Linked DNA regions of Homo sapiens. The protein of the gene in region 4 purifies or fractionates together with the protein of the main gene of each other region. This does not show direct contact. Each region holds a gene or a part of one and is shown on either strand. Other genes may lie near its edges.

Region 1 (3,500 bases), on a different chromosome or scaffold from region 4:
CACAATCAGAACATGAAGATAAGAATGTGAAGGAGAAACTGACATTCTTGCATGCTGTTTGGTGCATCCACAAAGAATGCAAAAGATGTAGAAGTGGAAGTTGTAAGAATATCCATGAATTAAAAATCAGATTGGCTTCACTCTGCTTTTTAGGAGGCAAAGGGGCAAAAAAAAAAAAAAAAAAAAAACAAAGACAAAAACAAAAAACAGTTCTTTAGTCAACCAGAAGTCGGTTCAATTAGAACTTTCTCAATTAGAAATGGAGCAGTAGCTCTAGAAAAAAAACAGAAGACTGTGTGGCAAGAAAAAAAGAAAGCTACAGATGAATTTTGGTTAATGAGTAGAAACCTAACAGAACTCAGGTGATGGGTCAGTGCAAGGACCTATAAATGACCTTGCTATGCTCAGTAAGCAGAGAAGTTCAGGAAATCTGTGAAGCCTCTGAACTGGAGAAAAAAAAGATAGAATATTGTCAAGAAATGGTAGAGAGAGAAAACTAAATGCCTGAGCAGAGTTAAATTAAGTCAAGCTGGAGTCAGCATATCATCTCTGTGCCTATAAATTATCTCTAGGCATCTAGGGTCTCACAGTGTGGCTGAGCAGCTTCTACCCTAAAGGAGTAAATTTCTCTGTTGAAATTTAGGAGAAAGATTTAGGCCTCATATTGTAATCTTCAGAAGAGAAACTCTTGAACTCTTGAATGGTGGTATTAGAATAGAGTCAAGAAAAGAACTAGAGTAAGTGTTCTCTGTGAGGAGGCTAGAGGCTAGGTTAGTTACAACAGTGACAGACTGAATCCAAAGCATTATCTTTGGGCACAAAGATCAGCATGTTTGGCAGCAGTAAGCTGTAAAAAAGAAAGAAGGCAAGAAAAGGAAAGAAAGTTGTTTGACTGCTATTATCTCATGTACTCTTATGTAGCTTAAGATCAATAGAATACTGTATTGTAGTTATAAAATATATACACATCAAAGTAAATACTCTCAAACCACTCATTTACGGTGCAGCTCCTTAAAAATAATCCATCCATCATATGTGGTCCTGATCAACAAACTTACTTAGATATTTATGGAAGCTGCAGTATTTTTCAAACTACATCTTAAGAAATCCAAAATTGTGTGGCACTGTCTCAGGAGCCCCTGGGTTGTGGAGTGGGGCGGGTAATGGGGGAGAGGGAAATCAAACAAGCAGGGCTAAAAATACTCCTCTGCTTCTTAAATCAGAAAAGCTTTGCTTTTATCTGTTTTATATAACAGGGATTCATGTAAGATTTCATTTGATAAAAGACTACTGGTAAGGTGGGAAAAGCATAGGCAAGACTAGGTTTGAACTGTGTCACTGCTATTTACTTACTCTGTGACTTGGGAAAATTACCTAAACTCTCTGAATCTTAGTTTCCTCTTTTATAAAATGGGATGAATAATATTTACAAATTGTTGTATGAAGTAAATAAGATAAAGTATGTAAAACACATACCATGAGACTTTAGCACATAGCAGGCACTAGCTGTTAGTTCCTTTTCTGAAAGACATGGAATATAGAGATAGATAGATTAGATAGACAGATAGATAGATAGATAGATAGATAGATAGATAGATAGAGAGATAGAGAGAGAGAGAGAGATGGGTTTTGGGGTTTTTTTGTTTGTTGGTTTTTCAGACAGGATCTTAACTGTGTAGTGGCACAATCGCTGCTCACTGAAGCCTTCCTGGGCTCAGGTGATTCTCCTACCTCAGTCTCCTGACTAGCTGGGACTACAGGCATATGCCACTAAGCCCAGCTAATTTTTTGAATTTTTTATAGAGACAAGGTCTCACTATGTTGCCCAGGTTGGTCTGAAATTCCTAAGCTCAAGAAATACACCTGCTTCGGCCTCCCAAAGTGCTGGGATTACAGGCGTCAGCCACCGTGCTTGGCCAATAGATGTTTAAATAAATAAATAAATAAATTTGTATAAAAAATATATATTTGTCTGTGTGTGTGTGTGTGTGTACATATAGTTGTAGAAGCTTCTGCAGACAGCTCTTCTGTAACTTGCAGTCATTCGAAAGATATACTGAGCAAGAATTTGGAGGTCAGCAGCATCACTCTCTTCAGCATTTCCAGGCCATGGCTGCCGTACTATCTGCTAGCATAAATCCTCAGCATTCAGCTACAGTTCTTCCTTCCTCTATATTTTCAACAGTTACTATCAGTAGTTTTCATTAGCTCCTCAAAGCTATATTGCAAAGAATTTAAATATTATTATCATTTTAATAAACTAGGTCAGTTCACAAAAGCAACCAACCACAAAAGCACTTTAAACAAATAAGACTCACCGACTGAGATTAAAAGGAGCTTTAGAGTGGATCCACGCAACACCTTTTTTTGCCATGAGAGATGAAGTAACCTCATCAAACTGGCAGAGTAATCAACTAGCAAAATTCCCAGATGATTGTAGTAGCTCTTGAACACATACCATGCTGATTAGCTCATGTTGCATGTTGCATGAACAATACATGGCAGAGAAAAGCTAAAAGTCAGTGGGAACACTATGCCAATTTAATGTCATTAACATTCCAGAAACCTACAATAACAAATACTAATTGCAAAATATGGAATGAAATGCCTACATTAAATCTTACGATCCTAATTCCACCATTGTGTGACATTGGGCAAGTTACTTAACCAAAGACTATTTCTTCACGTTTGAAATAAGGTGGCAATACCTGCCTCAAGGCCTTGTTATGAACAATATCTCTTCGTGGTATTCTTGCCAAAAATCCATAACCTCAGTCTAAACACAAAGAAAAATCAGACAAACCTAAACTGAGAGACATTCTACAAAATAACTGACTGGTTCTCTTCAAAAGTGCCAAGGTCATGAAGGAGAAAATGTATGCATTAGAAGAGACATGAAAGCTAAATGCATTGTGGGACCCTGGATTTGATCTTGGACTAAGGAAAGGGACAGTGAAAAAACTAGTGAAATTTGAACTAAGTCTGTAGCTAAATTACTATTATTGTACCAATATTAATTTCTTGATTTTGATAACTGTATTATGATTATTCAAGACAAAGCTTGGTGAAGGGTATACAGAAATTCTCTGTACTAATTTTGCAACTCTGTAAATCTAAAATTATTTTAAAATTAAAAAAATTTAAATCTTGTGAGAATTAAATACAGGGTCAAAAATTTTAAACCACGCTTTTTTTCTTTTTAGGCGTAATTCTTCATCTAATGGCTATACTTAGCGATAGTTAACAGCAAGAACATTATGTGAATACTGGCCAAACCCAGACTAGGAACCGCTAATAATGAAACATGTTCAACTGCAATAAAATGTGGACACTTTATCATACTTCAACTGAATAACAAATACTTTTGCAAAAATCTACTAACCATCAATATTTCACTCTTTGCACAATACAATCATGACTTAGTGCTTAAAGAAGTATGGATTCTGTGTTTGGCCAATGATGACAGGCTTAAATTTACCTAATACCATCAACATTTAAAC
Region 2 (3,500 bases), on a different chromosome or scaffold from region 4:
TCCTGTCTTGGCCTCCCAAAGTGTTGGGATTACAGGCATGAGCCACCATGCCCAGCTGACATAATTTTCTTTAAACAGCTTCAAGGTTAAAAACATTTCTGGTAGGGTGCAGTGGCTCATGCCTGTAAATCCCAGCACTTTGGGAGGCCGAGGTGGGAGGAACATTCGAGCCCAGGAGTTCAAGACAAGCCTGGGCAACATAGAGAGACTCTGTGTCTACCAAAGAATTAAAAAATTACCCAGATGTGGTGATGTTCACCTGTAGTCCCAGCTACTTGAGAGGCTGAGGCAGGAGGATCACCTGAGCCTGGGGGCTGGAGGCTGTGATGAACCATAATCATGCCACTGCACTCCAGCCTGGGCAACAGAGCGAGACTTGGTCTCCAAAAAAAAAAAAAAAATTACAAAAAAACTTTTCTTACACTCTTACACTTAGACTCATTCTACACATTAACCCTATGAAATCACAAGTTAAGTCTGATATATATACATATCTATCAAAGACATACATATATCTCTTTTTTATTTTTTTTTTTTTTTGAGACAGAGTCTTGCTTTGTCACCCAGGCTGGAGTGTAGTGGCATGATCTCGGCTCACTGCACCCTCCACCTCCCAGGTTCAAGTGATTCTCATGCCTCAGCCTCCTGAGTAGCTGATATTACAGATGCCCAGCTAATTTTTTGTATTTTTAGTAGAGACTGGGTTTCACCATGTTGGCCAGGCTGGTCTCGAACTCCTGGCCTCAAGTAATCTGCCTGACTCGGCCTCCCAAAGTGCTGGGATTACAGGCATAAGCCACAGCGCCCAGCCTCTATATTTTTTTTTCTAATTAATATTCACTTAAATTGCTATGCATGTATTACCTAAAATGACTTCCTATTTCACCAGTGATGTGTACCACTCTTTGGCAAACACAATACTGTGGTGTTGCATGTACTAGCCCAGTTAGTATGACGATGAGACTTTTGTCTGTCGTTGCAAACCTAGTTAGTCAAGGTTCAGTCAGCTACAGGATAGAGAGGTTATTATCAAACCAGATGGTGTGAAACCCTCTAAACCATTATCTTCCCTTCTCAACCAAAAATCCACTCGTCCCTCCTGCCACAAAAACAGAGACAGCATGCAAGCAAAAGCAGAGGGCTCCTGGGCAAGTCAGTACCTGGAGTCCTCATGAAAAGCAGAGATGAAGTCCGACTGGGCATACTCTGGGTACAGAAAGAGCACAGGCCAGCTCAGCCTGCCCTGGCCATCTAGACTCAGCCTGGCTCCATGGGGGTTCTCAGTGCTGAGTCCATCCAGGAAAAGCTCACCTAGACCTTCTGAGGCTGAATCTTCATCCTCACAGGCAGCTTCTGAGAGCCTGATATTCCTAGCCTGGGTTAAAGACAGAAACACACACACATAATGCACATCTTATTGTGTGGGAGGATGCAAACCCATTTTACTGAAATAAAGAAACCATAATGCCTGGCTAATTTTTTTATTTTTTATTTATTTTTATTTTTTGAAGAGACGGAGTTTCACTATATTGCCCAGGCTGCACGACTAACTTTATTTTTAATTTAATTTTCTTCATCTGTACCCTGAATGAACATGGACAACTAACTTTAATACATCAAAAAACAAACAAACAAAAAAAAACACCATAACAATGGGAGCTCCCTGAGGGACAGCTCTACACACAATCCATCTTCATTATCCCTGAGGCCTGGCACATAGTAGGTACCACTTAACTCACCTTCATTGGGCATCTATCTTGTGCTGGACCCTGTGTCACAGAGAACTAGACATGGCTACCTGCCCTCAAGCCTCTGCTCAATATCAAGTGGTGAGACAGCTATGGAAATAATGATGATATAAGGTAAGAAGTGGAGTTGTAGTACCATAGACGATGGAATAATTAATTCAGCCTTGGGGGCTGGAGGTGACTGAGATATGCTAGGCCTTGAACAATGACTTTGAAAAGCAGAGAAGTTGGAAGGGAGGGGCACTTAGAAGGGAGGAAGAGCCTTCCACTCCAACGAGCAGCAAGTGCAAAAGGACAGAAAAGATAAAAAAAAAAAAAAAGAAATGTCAAATATTTCAGTTTAGTTGGGACATGGAATACTAGAAAGAGTGTGCATTGACTTAATCTTGACTGTCTCCTAGACATGGGCATAAATTAAGGGTCTGAAATAGTAGGGTCACCTCTTATGTAAGTGTGCAGGGGTGCCTAAGGTTAGCACATGAGGGGAAATGACATGCAATCAAAATTAGATTTGATGATATCCCCTAAATTGGAGGTTAGCAAACTTTTTCTTAAAGCATTAGATATGAAATATTTTAAGAGTTCTGGACAATGGTCTCTGTCAAAATTAACTACTCAACTCTGCCACTGTAGTGTGAAAACAGCCATAAGTAGTACATAAACAAATAGGCAGGGCTGTGTTCCAACGGCTGCAGTTTGCTGACTCCTCCCTTTAACCATTAGTAAAATACAGCATGCATGGCTTCGTGTACTGTTGAGAGTAACTCTTATGTATGCTAAGTTTGAGATGAAGGGTTACACTAAAGAAGAGAACCAAAAAAAAAAAAAAAAAGGATTTATGCAAATGTCTGGGTGTCTGGGCATCTCATATTCTACAATTAAGAAAACGAACAAATCCCTCACTGTGAATGAGAATTAGATGGAAAATCTGGAGTATTCTAATCTGTTTAACGTGTTAATACATGTAAACAGATTGTTGTGGGGAGGGAATAGTGGAGTATGTTTTAGCAGTGTTAAGTTTCTTACAGTCAACAAGTAACATAAATGGTGCATAATTTAACTGAACAAATAATAAAACAAAAAACCTACCCCGGTTGGGCACCGTGGCTCACGCCTATAATCCCAGCACTATAGGAGGCCAAGGCAGGTGGATCGCCTGAGGTCAAGAGTTCAAGACCAGCCTGACCAATATGGTGAAACCCCGTCTCTACTAAAAATACAAAAATTAGCTGGGCATGGTGGTGTGCACCTGTAGTCCCAGCTACTCGGGAGGCTGAAGCAGAATTGCTTGAACCCAGGAAGTGGAGGCTGCAGTGAGCCGAGATTGCACCACTGCACTCCAGCCTGGGTGACAGAGAGACATTCCATCTCAAAAAAAAAAAAAACCTATCCCATAATCTCCCAGCAGATATTCTCTCCTTTGTTAAGACCAAACAATCTCAAACAGGTGACTCCCTAGGTATCAAGGTTAAAGCAAGATTTGGGTCAGACTATATATATTTCAAAATACAGAAAAGAGAAAGACAGGGTGGCATTTTGTTATTGTTGTTGTTGTTATAGGAACAACATCCTAAAATGTCAGACTTTCTCAGGATGCTGTACAACCCAGTGGTTAAGAGCAAGGACCCGGCTCTAACACATGTTAGCTGTGTAAGGTTTCTTCACCTCTCTGAAACTATTATCCAAAAAAACAGAAGCAAGACAACCTATTTCAGAAGGCCACTGTGAAGCTTAAATAACACTTAACCCAAA
Region 3 (3,500 bases), on a different chromosome or scaffold from region 4:
CAGCTATGGACCTGGGTGAGCGGGGAGCCCGGGCAGTCTCAGTAGGCCATGTGCCCAAGGGCAGGGAGGACCCCGAGACTGAGTGTGTTCCTGCAAATACTCGGCCCTGACAGCTCAACGCTCGGCAGCTCTCTGGGCAGCTGGTTGTCTGTCCATAGGTCTGGGCATGTGTGTTCCTGTCCTTCAGTGGGCATGGCTGGGGACTCTGGGGGGTGGGCTCCCACGACTACCTGCTGTAGGGTGAGGCGGGGTCCAGGCCGGTGAGCAGCCATCATGGGAACTCCCGCTGGAGGAGCTGGCACATTGGGGTGGCTCCTCGATGGGAAGGCGGAGGCAGCCCAGCTGGGCGCCACGCAGGCCTCAGAGGACATGCCATGCTGCTGGGGGGCAGAGGGCTCTGCAGGAGGCTTGTTCGGGTGCATCTGCCATAGAAGAAAGGGCACCAAAGAACTGGGAGGGACAAGGCACATCCTCTGCTAGTCAGTGACCACAGTGAAATGTCTGGAGGCCAAGACAGGGCCTGCGTGGCTGTGGCTGAGCCCCAGGGCTCCAGCACTGGGGTAGCTCTCAGGAGCTCTGCACTGCCTGGGCTGGCCCTGGCTGACATCTGACGTGCAGGGCACAGGCAAAGAACGCGGAGGGACTGAGCAGAGGCCAGGCTGCAAGTACTCACACACCTCCTCCCTGCCCCGGGGCAGCGGCCCAGCTGCTCTGCCCTGCACACCGAGGGGCTGTGGGTAGGACTGCAAGTCCTCCAATGAGAGAAAAGACTACCCGAGGGGCGGAGGCCGCAGGGCCTGCCCACATCTCCTTGTCGTGGCTTCTATGAAGAACTGTGAGCACGGCACATCGTGCTCAGGAAAGCCCTGCACGCAGCCACGGGTCAGCACTGCTGACTTGCTGAACGCAGGGCCGCAGAGGCCACGGGCTCCTGCAGCAGGAGGATGGCAGGTTTCAGAGCGTGGGAGGCTCCCTGCGGTCTTCCCAGCTCCAGACCAAGAGGCCTGCCCTCCTGGCACCAAGACAGAAAGATGCGAGCGTGGTGCCCCCTGAACGGAGAGGACAGCCTGGACAGAGGCTGGGGATGGTTCAGGCCCCCTCAGAGAGCCCACAATCCCATGGCCCACAGGAAACCATCGGGGGCCCCTCTCCTGCACCCTCTCTCTCAGTGCTCCCTGGGGGGTGCAGGCTTTTGGCCCTGGAGAAGGCACCACGCAGGCCGATAGCCTTGGCAGAGAAGTCTGGGCCAAGAAGCCCAGGGACTTGCTGTGGTCAGCCCTCTCAGGACAGGGACCCAGAGGCTTCTGGGCCATCTTGAAGTTGAGTCCAACCTTGGCCTGGCTGTTCACACACAGAGCCAGGGCCGCTGGCCCTACTTACCACATATCCCCATTCTGGATCGTTCGGTCGTTGGGAGCTCCGGCGTGTCCGTAGTGTAGCACGGCTGAGTTCTCACCACTGCAAAGAGCCGGGGGAGGGTGATCAAAGCCCATTCTTCTGCAGCAGGCTCTGAAGGAGGGGGTGGATGCTCGATCCCCTGCCCATGAGCAGCACTGTCCCCACCTCCAGCACAGGCCCAGGCGTGGCTGGACCAGGTCCACAGCCAGAGGTAAGGCCGGGGGACATGGTGGCCCTGTCACCCCGCAGTCACATGGCTGGCAACCAGCCTCAGTCTGCAGGCAGAGCCTCCTGGCTGAAGGCGTCGTTAGGCGGCTGCCCTCTGGGCTGGGATGTGGGCATCATGTGGAACACATGTAAAACTTAGCAATGGGCCGGGTGTGGTGGCTCACGCCTGTCATGCCAGCACTTTGGGAGGCCAAGAAAGGCAGATCACTTGAGCCCACAAGTTCGAGACCAGCCTGGGCAACATGGCGAAACCCTACCTCTACAGAAAATGCAAAAAAAATTAGCTGGGTTAGGTGGCTCACAGCTGTAATCCCAGTTACTCAGGAGGCTGAGCTAGGAGGATCACCTGAGCCTGGGAAGTGGAGACTGCAATGAGCTATGATCATGCCACCGCACTCCAGCCTGGGCAAAAGAGGGAGACCCTGTCTTTAAATTAAAAAAAGAGCAAAAAAGGGGAACAGCAGTTCCTGGGCCTGGAGAAGGGCCCTACGGAACCCCTCCTTTCCTGGTGGCCAAAGGGGAGAGGGCCTCTATGGAAAGGGCCCCGGCTGTCCTGGAGCTGCCCTGGCGTCCTGACCAGGCTGGAGAGAGAGGAAACCAAGAGGATCCTCGCTCCTCTGCCTGAGAAGGCTTCCCTAATGAGCGATGCCTTTAAGAAAAAAAGGACTTTTAAGTCTGTCCAAAGGGGGGAAGGAAACCCCCACCTGGGTGTAATATTTATGGCCCTGCTCAGGAGTCTTGGGAATCATAAAAGTAGAAATAATGGTTTTCTCTCCATCCACCAGAGAAGAACATTTCCAAGGACTGAGATTTCACATGTATTATTCATGTGCCGGGGACGTGCGCATTGGCAGAGCTGCCTGGCTCCATCCTGGCCGGGCAGGGGCCAGACCCGAGGGGCAGAGAGCAGGGAGACTGGCTGGGAGAGCGCAGGAGACGAGGGGGCCACGCCCACAGCCAGGACGCATGTGGGGGCAGACACACCCCAAGGGACACATGCCGCTGTGCATGGCCCACACAGCATGGCAATGATCCCATATCACTGTCATTTCTACCATGTGTGTGCCTCCAAGCACACCCAGCCAGGTGTTGATGGCACACACCCAAGCGCACACACCCACACAGAGCCCTGCCCCTCGGCACCATGTGCCACGAGCAGGCACACCAACAGTGACATGCACACCCACATACAGCAGCACTGGTCCCCACGCAGCCACACCCACATAGACACACCACCACCACTTTCTGCACTGACCCTTCCACACTCCACCCCTGCTGCACACAGAAGCTGCCCAGCCTGAGCTCACAGCCCGGTCCCCACATGCTGTGTGTGTGCCCGTGTGGAGGAGTGGCCTTCCTGTGCTTAGCTGCTGTGCTGACCAGCTGGGGACAGGAGGGAGGGGACGCCAAGCAGCCCCTCTGCAGTGGGCAGGCCATGCTCCCTCCTTCACCCAGTGCCAGGTCCTGCAGGCAGAGGCCACCTCAGCTCCGGGAGTCTTGGGAGGGAGGAGCGACTTCCAAGCTTGGGCCGGGCGCTGGTGTGGGCGTGTGAGTGAGCAAGTGTGGCTGAGCTGGGGGATGGTGGAGCCCCCCACTCACTAACTGCCCTACCTCCTCCCACTGGTCACCCCCAGGGGAGCCAGGGTGCCCCGCTTACCTGCCGCAGATGCAGGTGTAGGAGCTGTGGCGCATGCCGCCCCGGGAGTAGCAGTAGTGCTCGAAGAGGCTGCAGGGGGAGAGACGCGTCAGGGTTGGGGCACTAGAGCAGGCACACCCCACTCCACGAGCCCCATGAACCCCAAGGGAAGGCCCTCGGCCCATGGTCTCCCCTGCCGTGGCCCCACAATGGTCCAAACTCTCAGTGTGAGTCTGTG
Region 4 (3,500 bases):
GTTCCCAGGGGGATTATGGCTGCCTCTTCTGCGTCATACAGGCTGCCAGGGAAGTAGGAGAAAGCCGGCAGTGACAGACCCCCACCCAGCTGCCACACAGCCAGCAAGGCCAGTTTCACTCCCGCCATGCCCCACCATGGTGAGCAGGGCTGAGATCTTGCCCCAGACTACAGGCCTCCCTACTGAGAAAGCAAGCAGGCCTCTCAGGCCTCGCCCCTCCCTGCCTGCCTGCACCTTCGGCTGTGGGTTCTTCATTTGTATCTGCACTTCCCATTTGTCCCCCACCGGATTCTGCTCAGGAAAATTTGTGCTCAGTTGAAATTATTACGAAGTTCAGCTAGAAGCTTCCTTCATCCTGTGGCCCCTCCCCAGTTCTGCTGGCTGCCTTTTTTTCCCGAAGGACCCCTGTGAGATAAAGCCAGGGATGGCTTCCCTGGGCTCAAGCTGGGGACTGGAAGTGTCTACAGGGCTCTTCCTGCTGCTGCTTCTACTTTTATAGTTTGCTCAGCTCTCTAAATCCATTTCAGCTCTAGGTAAGATTAAATCCGTCTCCTGTGATCTGGATTTTTCAGGTTCCCCGGTGGGGATGTATGTTCAGAGGCAGACTTTTCCCCCTCTCACACTTTGGGAACTCACAGTTTTTTGGCTGTCTTATGGAGTTTGCAGCAGCAAGCCACTTCTTTCAAAGGGTCTGTGAATTCTTTTGGTTTTCCTGGTATGTTCCTGTGGTGGTTCTTGGAGCAAAAGTTCACAATGTGTGTCTCCACACACTGTTCTGTCTGTCCAAGTGGGTGCTGCACATTAATCCTGTCTTCTATTGCCATTTTCCTGCAAGTTTTCATTGTATTTATCCTTTTGAATTTGTGTAGTTTAAAATTATGAGTTAAACAGTGGCAAGTCCTCTTTGCCACTTTTCCAACCAACTAGTTACCCTATCTGGAGGCAGCCAGTGTTACCAAAATTGTGTGGCCTTTGAGATAGACTTTCATAAACACACAAATTGCAACTCCTCCCGCCCCACCCCTTTTTACACTAGCGGTAGCCTGCTTTATACATGTTCTGTTTCCTGCCTTGCCTGTCTTGGAGATTATTACACATTGGCTTATAAAAGAGCTTCCTTGTTCCTTTTTTTTCTGAATACCTGCATGTATTCCACTTTACCTATGTAACATTATGACTTAACTGGATCACCACTAGTGGTCATTTATGTTTGCAGATTTTTGCTAGCAGGGAATCACTGGATGAAAGGATTAATGTGTCTGTGATTTTTGTTAGATGGTTTCAGATTGCCGTCTGTAGCTTGTATTCACTTAGCCTTCTACCAACAGTGTGTGCAGGTATCTGTTTCCCTGCATACCTGGTCCATTATACCTTTTCTCTTACAGTTAAAGTGTTATGTCATTGAAGTATGTGTGAGTATATGTAAATATTCTTGGTAAAGGTTGTGTGTAGTTGTTAATTTTCACTGCTGAATCATATTCCATCATCTGTATGTGTGTGAAAAAAAGTTTATATCTATTCTACTCTTTTAGTTTTTTCTCTTTCTTTCTTTTTTTGGAGACAGGATCTTGCTCTGTCACCCAGGCTGTAGTACAGTGGCATAATCATGGCTCACTGCAACCTCTGCTCCTGGGCTCAGGCGATTCTCCCACCTCAGCCTCCTGAGTAGCTGGGACTGCAGGCATGTGCCAGCATGCTTGGCTAATTTTTGTATTTTTTGTAGAGCTGCCATCTCTATGTTATGTTTCCCAGGCTGGTCTCGAACTCCTGGGCTCCATCAGCTCCATCTGGAGCTCCATTGAACTCCTGGGCTTCATTCCCAAAGTGCTGGGATTATAGGCATGAGCCACCATACCCAGCCTCTATTCTACTCTTGATGGACATTTGGGTATTATCAGTTTTTAGCTAATAGGAAAAGTGCCACTATCAACATCTTACACATGTCTTTTGATGACCAAATGTATGCCTAACAGTTGTATATCTAGGAGTAGAATTGCTGAGTGGTTAGGTGTGAATCCATCAGCTTGGAAGATGAACATTTCCAAAGTGCTTTTGCCAGCTCAGCTTTCACCATCAATGCGTATGAGTGTCTTTGCATCCCAGCAGAATTTCATTACACTGACTTCAGTGTGTGTGTAGTGATATCTTGTAATATTAATTTGTATTTCCTTTCAGTGAATGATTTTGAGCATCTTTTAAAATGTTTATTGGCCATTTTGGGTAGCTTCTTTTGTGAGGTACTTCTTCAAGTCTTTTGCCCATTTTTCTATGGGGATTCTGTCTTTTTCTTGATGATTTATAAATTGTTTATATTTTTGATATGAGTCCTTTGTCAGGTATATGCTTTGCAAATATCTCCTCCCATTCCGAGGAAATCTTTCAAGGCTGGTGGTATGATTGAAAATAACTGGTAGTGGGGCTCCTTGGCTGGAGTAGTCATGGAGGGTCTCTAGAGGATGACTTGCCATCTGATATGTCTGAAGGACAGAGCTGAGCCAGCCCCTTGAAGTGCTTGACAATGACTGGCTCAGGCAGAGGGAACAGCATGAACAAAGGCCTCAGGGCAGGACAAAGCTTAGCATGTTTGGGTACAGAAAGAAGGCCAAAGTGGGAGGGGAGAAAGAGGTGGCAAGAAGAAATTAAGATAATCAGAATCTCTTTTCATTGCTCTGTGGGAGAAAAAGGCTTTAGATTTGTCATTCGTCCAATGCTGTGTATGACAGTTGCTTCTAGTGACCCTGCAGTCTTTGAGTCTCTTTTTGCTTTGGGAGGCTGAAACAATGTTTCTTTCTGTCCTTTGTCCTGCAGGTGTGGTGGACACAGGCCTATTCATCAACATGGCTGAGAGAGTCTACTTTGGGATGCAGGATGGCTCAGTGAACATGAGGGAGAAGCCTTTCTGTTGACCCTGCAAGGAGCAGAGTGTGTTCACCTTGAGTCTCCAGCCCACAGCCAAGGTGGACGTACCTCTCCAGGAGCCTTTGCCTTAATGTATCTCTGCCTGGACAACTTGTGGTGGGGGGTGGGGGGAAGAGTGGGAGGGGGAGTTAAATCCAGTCTTATGAAGTATTGTTATTAAATGTCTTTTTAAAAAGAGAAATATAAACATATATTTTTACTATTAAAATATTCAGTTTTTTAAATGAAGTAGAACTTGAGTTCATGTTTTATATGAAATATTTACCAAAAAAAAAAAATGAGGTAAACTGTATTTAAAACCTTTGACTTGAGTCTGCTGGTAAAGCTTCTGAATATTGAGTTTGCTGAGAAATAAAAATCAAAACTTCTTTAAGCTGGTAAAGTGAGGGGCCCACCAGCAGTGATCTCCTGATGCCTTACTGGAAACTTTGTTTACTTGTCTGCTACCCTCTGATTTGTTTTTAGTTAGTTTTTATTGTGAGCACACATAGTACCTAGTTACATCTTAAGATCAGGTTTATAAAACTGTGGAGTGGAGCGGTATGGTATGGAATGACTTGGAATGTAAGCTGTCAGGGAGA
Region 5 (3,500 bases), about 42 Mb from region 4:
ACCAATGACAAACTGTTATCTGAAAAATAAGGTAATTCCATTTATAATAGCAACAAAACAAATATATAAGTAAATCAAAGAGCAAGGAGTAATTTTAATGAAGGATGTGAACGATTTGTATACTGAAAATTATAGCACATTGATGAAAGAAATTGAAAGTGACAAATAGAAAAAGTCCTATATTTGTCAACTGAAAAAATTAATATTGTCAAAATTTCAATGCTACTCAAAGCATTCTACAGATTAAATGCAACCGCTGTCAAATTCCAATGTCATTCTTCACAGAAATAGAAAAATTAGTCCTAAAATCTGAATGGAACCACAAAAGATGCTGAAAAACCAAAGCAATCTTTAGCAAAAAGAACAAACCTGGAGGCATCAGACTACCTAATCTTTGACAAAGCAAACAAGAAAATGGGAAAGGACACCCTATTCAACATATGCTGCTGGTATAATTGGCAAGCCACATGCAGAAAAATGAAGCCGTTCTTCAAAGGTTAAATACAGAATTACCACATGACTCAGTAAATTCACTCCTATGTATACACCAAAAATAAATTAAAACAAATGCCTTACACATAAAGGTATTTATAGCAACAAAAAGTAGGAAACAACAGAAATGTCCATGAATTTTGGAGTGGATTAATAAAATGTGGTCTGTCCATAAAATAAAATATTACTTGGCAATGAAAAAGAAAAACATATTAATACATGCTCCAAAAAGGATGAACATTGAAAACATGATAAATGAAAGTAGTAAGTCACACGTAACTATATTATTATGATTCCACTTACATGAAATGTCCAGAATAGGCAAATCCTTCCAGAATAGGCAAATTCTTAGGAAGTAGATGGATGATTGCCTAGGGCTGGGAGAGGTTTAAAGGAAGAATGGGGAAAATAGGGAAAGATTGCTAATGGGTGCAAAGTTTCTTTTAAGGAGCATAAAAATGTTCTAAAATCGTGGTGATTGTTTAACTAGTTAATACACTTAAAAAACTGAATTTTATACTTTAAATGAGTGAATTAAATAATATATAAATTGTATCTCAATGAACCTGTGAAAAAAGTTAAAAAATATGTGGTATGCATAAACAAAAAGTTCTTCATTTTATTTCCTAGGGTTTTGGGGAAAAGGTGGTGTTTGATTATATGAGTAAGTTCTTTAGAGGTGATTCAGGAGATTTTGGTGCACCCAACACCTGTGCAGTATACACTGTATACACTGCACCGGGGCAGGAGCTGGCTGCAATCCTGTGGCCCCAAATGCCCCCTTGCTGATGGCCTCGTGTTCTGGGTGCGGAGCAAAGAGGAGCAGGTGTTGAAGGCACCTCAGGCAGGCCCTGGGCTCGGTGGGCGTCTTGTGCTCCGCGATTTTGAGGCCATTTGCAGCCAGCTCCGTCAGCCCGAGCTCCCAGCTGCAGCTGCTGCCATGCACAACAGCACCGCCAGGAGTGTCCTGGGGGCTTTTTTCAAAGGAGGCTGTCAGCATCCTCAAGTTCCAGACGCTTAGCCCCAGTCCTCCTTTAAGAGGCTTTTTTTTTTTTCACCAGAGGCTTCTCAGTGGCTTGAAAGCTCAGCTGACTCCCACGAAGTTTGCCGGAACTCAAGGCTGTCAGTGACATTCGTGGCGCCAAGACTTAAGCAGGCGCGTTGCATGCATCGGCCAGTGTCTGTGCCACGTGCCCTGACGCCACCTGAGATAAGCACGCCGCACGCCGCACGCCGCACGCGCACGCCGCACGCGCACGCGCACGCCCGGCAGCAGCTTGCTGGCTTGTAACGGCTTGCACGCGCACGCCGCACGCGCATAACGGTTTGGCCGGCCTGTAACGGCTTGCACGCGCACGCCGCACGCGCGTAACGGCTTGGCTGGCCTGTAATGGCTTGCACGCGCATGCTGCACGCGCTTTAACGGCTTGGCTGGCCTGTAGCGGCTTGGCTTGGCTTTGCGTTCTTGGCTTGGCTTGGCGTTGGTAGCTTGGATTGACGTTTCCTGCTTGGATTGACGTTTTCTCTCTCGTGTTCCTTTGCTGGGCTTGACCTTTTCTCTGCTGGGTTTGGCATTCCCTTGGGTGGGCTGGGTGTTTTCTTGGGGGCGGGGGTTGGCCCTTTCTGGGGTTGGCCCTTTCTGGGGTGGGCGTGGGGTCGCCCAGGGGGGGCGTGGGCTTTCCTCGGGTGGGTGTGGGTTTTCCCTGGGTGGGGTGGGCTGGGCTGGAATCCCCTGCTGGGGTTGGCAGGTTTTGGCTGGGATTGACATTTCTCTTCAAACAGATTGGAAACCCGGAGTTACCTGCTAGTTGGTGAAACTGGTTGGTAGACGCGATCTGTTGGCTACTACTGGCTTCTCCTGGCTGTTAAAAGCAGATGGTGGTTGAGGTTGATTCCATGCCGGCTGCCTCTTCTGTGAAGAAGCCATTTGGTCTCAGGAGCAAGATGGGCAAGTGGTGCTGCCGTTGCTTCCCCTGCTACAGGGAGAGCGGCAAGAGCAACGTGGGCACTTCTGGAGACCACGACGACTCTGCTATGAAGACACTCAGGAGCAAGATGGGCAAGTGGTGCCACCACTGCTTCCCCTGCTGCAGGGGGAGTGGCAAGAGCAACGTGGGCGCTTCTGGAGACCACGACGACTCTGCTATGAAGACACTCAGGAACAAGATGGGGAAGTGGTGCTGCCACTGCTTCCCCTGCTGCAGGGGGAGCGGCAAGAGCAAGGTGGGCGCTTGGGGAGACTACGATGACAGCGCCTTCATGGAGCCCAGGTACCACGTCCGTGGAGAAGATCTGGACAAGCTCCACAGAGCTGCCTGGTGGGGTAAAGTCCCCAGAAAGGATCTCATCGTCATGCTCAGGGACACTGACGTGAACAAGAAGGACAAGCAAAAGAGGTAACCAGGCCTGGGCTGGGAGGAGGTGGGACGTGGGGGGATGATGGGGACATACCCTCCTGGCGGGGGAGGAGGGGGACCTGGCTTTCTCGCCTCCGCAGGCCTCACACCACCCTGGATGTGGAAACCTCAGAGAGGTCAGGGTACAGGGCCCTTTATGAACAGCAACACAAAAACAAAACTTTAGCTGATTTCCAATCATAATTTCCCTCATAGAACACTAATAGACTGTTTTAAAGTGATTTAACTTGCAAAATTAATTAAGTCAATGCAGCAGATTATTTTTAATCTACAGATTTTAAAACAATGTTCTATACATTATAGAAAAGTGTATATTGAGAACTAAGAACAAAGCCCCATAACACATCAACTTCAGGGCTAAATATTCTTCAAATAAAATCCAGTATGGATTTTATATCAATGTACAGTATGTAAATATGTTCTTTACTGAGGAACCTTAGAAGGAAACTGAAATGGGAAGATGGTTCCTGTGCTTGAACAGGAAGATTGAATTTTCTTAAGATGTGAGCTTTTTGGCTGGGCGCGGTGGCTCACGCCTGTAATCCCAGCACTTTGGGAGGCGGGCGGATCACGAGGTCAGGAGATCGAGAC
Region 6 (3,500 bases), on a different chromosome or scaffold from region 4:
AACACGGTGAAACCCCGTCTCCCCTAAAAATACAAAAAAATTAGCTGGGCCTGGTGGCGGGCGCCTGTAGTCCTAGCTACTTGGGAGGCTGAGGCAGGAGAATGGCATGAACCGGGGAGGCAGAAGTTGCAGTGAGCCAAGATTGCGCCACTGCACTCCAGCCTGGGTGACAGAGCGAGAGTCCGTCTCAAAAAAGCATGGGATTTTTAAATCAGACCTGAGTTAAATCCCACCTGTGTCCGTTAGCTAGCTATAACTTCGGACCACCTTTCTAAGGACATTTTCTCATCTTTGAAGTGGGAATAATAGAATACTTTGAAGGATTGTTAAAAATTAAATGAGGCCAGGTACAGTGGCTCATACCTATAGTCCCAGCAGTTTGGGAGGCCAAAGCAGGGGATCACCCTAGGTCACAAGTTCCAGACCAGCCTGAGCAACATAGTGAGAACTCCATCTCTACAAAAATTATCTGGGTGTAGTGGTGCATGCCTGTAGTCCCAGCTACTTGGGAGGCTGAGGCCGGGAGGATTGCTTGAGCCTGGGAGCTTGAGGCTGCAGTGAGCTATGATTGTACCACTGAACTCCAACCTAGGTGACAGAGTGAGACTCTGTCTCCAAAAAAAAAAAAAAAAATTAGAACATAGGTAAAGTGCTGCTGAGCACATTGCATAGTACAGTAGATGACACATAGAATGTACTTAGTACCTGTTAGTTGCTGTTTTAATGGTAGGGTTCACCCACATCTTGTCAGAAATCACATGTACCCCTTTGAGTTTGCAGTCTTGGGCCTCTTCTTTTATGACATTCTAGCTCATTATGAGAAAGTGGCAGAATAGCCAGATAGAAAATGGAGGCTCTCATTCCACAGATTGGATGAAGGTAATGGGGAGCACAACACCCGCGTATGGCATTTCTTAATGTCCCCATTAGCAAGGCCTGGTGAATGTCCTGAAATCTAGCCAGTCAGATAGTTTCTTCTCAGGGAGAAACTAAGAGGGAGATAAAGGGGAGAACTTTGGAGTTTTCCCTCTTCTAGATGTCCCAAGTAGACTTGTCTTTGGCATCAGTTTAGTCTTTCTAGTATATTAATCCTTCTCTTCCTCCAACCAAGGAATGGCTGCTTTAAATGGTGGCCTGGGCAGCAGTGGCCTTTCCAATGGCACCGGGAGCACCATGGAGGCCCTCACTCAGGCCTACTCGGGTATCCAGCAATATGCTGCTGCTGCGCTCCCCACTCTGTACAACCAGAATCTTCTGACACAGCAGAGTATTGGTGCTGCTGGAAGCCAGAAGGAAGGTGAGTGCAAAGGGAGATCGGGGTCAGGTATGGGGGGCGGTTTTCCTCCTATACCAGAACGGAAAGGCAGAGCAAAGGCTGAGGGAACCAGTTAGGTCGTCAGACCATTGTTTTTCTTTGACAGTGTCAAGTGTAGACTGAGAAACCCTGTGAAGTGTGATCTGCTTTTTAAATGTTTTCTGGATGTGGCTCAAATCAGAACCTCTGTGTGCCCTCTTGGGATGGGGCTGCAGTTTTTAGATGAAGCAACAGACACTGACCTTATCGGGTCTGACACATTTGACAAGAATGTTTCTGTTAGGAGGTCTTCTCTACAGATTACAAATCTATCAGAGGATCTTCTGTCTGGATGTCTTCTGTTTCAGTGTCCCTTTTAGCTATATCATTTGGCATTTTCCTCACTTTCTGATTGATGTTTGTCCTGATTGAAGACAAACTGAGGGGTGATGGGACAGAGTTTGGCCCATGAGTTGATGGAGTGGGAAGTATGTCGTTTGACACAAATGGTATTCAATTTAGGAGAAAAATAGGAGAGACTCTTTAGCCAGAAAGAGGCCTGAAGGTGACTTACATGAATAGAAGGTCCTGCTGACACCTCTGTGCTCAGATTTGACTGGGTTTTTATAACCAGGAGCTGGTATAAGCACTAATGTAGGAAAAAGATGAGTGTCCTCTTGTCACAGCAGAAAGTCCTGGTTCATCTCTCCTCACCTGCTGTGAATCACTTATATCCCCTAGGGATGTGGTAGTAGGAGAATGTAGCGTGAACCAATATTTTAGTGGAGACTGTGGAGACAGACAATAAATAAATGAAAGCATGAGGTGTTTCAGATGATCCTCTGGAGAATGACAAGCCGGGAAGAGAGATAGGGAGTGTCAGAGGCACTGCATTTTATGCAGAATGCTCAGAGAATGTCTCTCTAGATTGACATTTAAGCAGAGAACTGAAGGAAGTAGGAAGCAAGTCATGCCTGAATCTAGAGAAAGAAGAGTAACAGGGGCATAGGAAAAGCAAGTACAGAGGCCCTGAGGCAGCAATGTTCCCTGATGTGTTTGAAAAAAACAGGGAGGCCAGGGTGGCTGGAGAATGGCTGGACTGCAATTGTAATAAAGCTTTTTGGTTAGAAAATCATTGAGTAGGCTGGGCGCAGTGGCTCGCGCCTGTAATCCCAGCACTTTGAGAGGCCAAGGCAGGCAGATCATGAGATCAGGAGTTCGAGACCAGCCTGACCAACATGGTGAAACCCCATCGCTACTAAAAATACGCCAGGCATGGTGGCGCCTGCCTGTAATCCCAGCTACTCGGGAGGCTGAGGCAGGAGAATTGCTTGAACCCGGGAGGCGGAGGTTGCAGTGACCTGAGTTCACGCCACTGCACTCCAACCTGGGCAACAGAGTGAGCCTCTATCTCAAAAAAAAAGAAAGAAAAAAAAAGAAAATCATTGAGTGTAAATAGTCAGATGAAGAATGTATATTCTGTTTTTAAGCTCAGTGTTAATCATGGGTGCATTTTTAAAACTAATTTCTTATTTTCCCATTTACATATGATGAAACTCACTGATTTTGGCATACAGCTATATGAGTATTGACAAACAGTCCTAGTCCTGCAACCATCACCACAGATTAGGAACATTTCCATCACCCCTAGAAATTCCCTCGTGCCCCTTTGTAGTCATTCCCTGCATCTGGCAACTACCAATCTGTTTGCTGTCCCTGTGGTTTCTAGGCATTATTTGGAAACCTGTTTTGTTTATAACCCCTTTTCACCTCCTCTTCTGTGTTCCTCTCTGAGCCTACAGTCTCTGTTTTCCTGCTCCACACACAAGTCGGCCTGCTTTATTATCCCAACACTCCTCCTCCTGCGGGTAGAATTTCTCACATCCTCAATGAGATGGAGCTTGGCTGAATGTGAGGGAAGGAATCTGTTTTAATGTTTGCCTTTGGTTCCTTGCTTTGTATTTAGAGAATCTGTTTAGTTCCCCAGATGAATCTCTGTTTTTAGGGATTGTGACAGTTTTAACATAGGTGGAAATGAAAGATCACTGGTGCAGGGCGACGAGCATGTTTGACACTGATACTTTTCCAATTCCTGGGTATTTTGAAGGTCCAGAGGGAGCCAACCTGTTCATCTACCACCTGCCCCAGGAGTTTGGTGATCAGGACCTGCTGCAGATGTTTATGCCCTTTGGGAATGTCGTGTCTG

Evidence for each region.
Region 1: the proteins of RPIA (region 4) and WARS2 fractionate together in Homo sapiens (co-fractionation; one large-scale study listed by BioGRID). This does not show direct contact.
Region 2: the proteins of RPIA (region 4) and TTC4 purify together in Homo sapiens (co-immunoprecipitation; one large-scale study listed by IntAct). This does not show direct contact.
Region 3: the proteins of RPIA (region 4) and PEPD fractionate together in Homo sapiens (co-fractionation; one large-scale study listed by BioGRID). This does not show direct contact.
Region 5: the proteins of RPIA (region 4) and POTEE purify together in Homo sapiens (affinity purification with mass spectrometry; one large-scale study listed by BioGRID and IntAct). This does not show direct contact.
Region 6: the proteins of RPIA (region 4) and CELF1 fractionate together in Homo sapiens (co-fractionation; one large-scale study listed by BioGRID). This does not show direct contact.

Annotation. Positions count from the first base shown.
Region 1 is NC_000001.11:119,134,154-119,137,653, forward strand, and holds part of WARS2 (tryptophan--tRNA ligase, mitochondrial isoform 1 precursor), read right to left. Parts: intron 1-3,500. UniProt on the Homo sapiens protein: Catalyzes the attachment of tryptophan to tRNA(Trp) in a two-step reaction: tryptophan is first activated by ATP to form Trp-AMP and then transferred to the acceptor end of tRNA(Trp).
Region 2 is NC_000001.11:54,729,361-54,732,860, reverse strand, and holds part of TTC4 (tetratricopeptide repeat protein 4), read right to left. Parts: intron 1,376-3,500; coding exon 1,161-1,375; intron 1-1,160.
Region 3 is NC_000019.10:33,410,292-33,413,791, forward strand, and holds part of PEPD (xaa-Pro dipeptidase), read right to left. Parts: intron 3,353-3,500; coding exon 3,284-3,352; intron 1,459-3,283; coding exon 1,381-1,458; intron 1-1,380. UniProt on the Homo sapiens protein: Dipeptidase that catalyzes the hydrolysis of dipeptides with a prolyl (Xaa-Pro) or hydroxyprolyl residue in the C-terminal position.
Region 4 is NC_000002.12:88,747,173-88,750,672, forward strand, and holds part of RPIA (ribose-5-phosphate isomerase), read left to right. Parts: intron 1-2,808; coding exon 2,809-2,906; 3' UTR 2,907-3,500. UniProt on the Homo sapiens protein: Catalyzes the reversible conversion of ribose-5-phosphate to ribulose 5-phosphate and participates in the first step of the non-oxidative branch of the pentose phosphate pathway.
Region 5 is NC_000002.12:131,216,036-131,219,535, forward strand, and holds part of POTEE (POTE ankyrin domain family member E), read left to right. Parts: intron 1-1,553; 5' UTR 1,554-1,648; exon of another isoform or gene 1,649-2,274; 5' UTR 2,275-2,367; coding exon 2,368-2,888; intron 2,889-3,500.
Region 6 is NC_000011.10:47,473,133-47,476,632, reverse strand, and holds part of CELF1 (CUGBP Elav-like family member 1), read left to right. Parts: intron 1-1,111; coding exon 1,112-1,297; intron 1,298-3,401; coding exon 3,402-3,500. UniProt on the Homo sapiens protein: RNA-binding protein implicated in the regulation of several post-transcriptional events. Involved in pre-mRNA alternative splicing, mRNA translation and stability.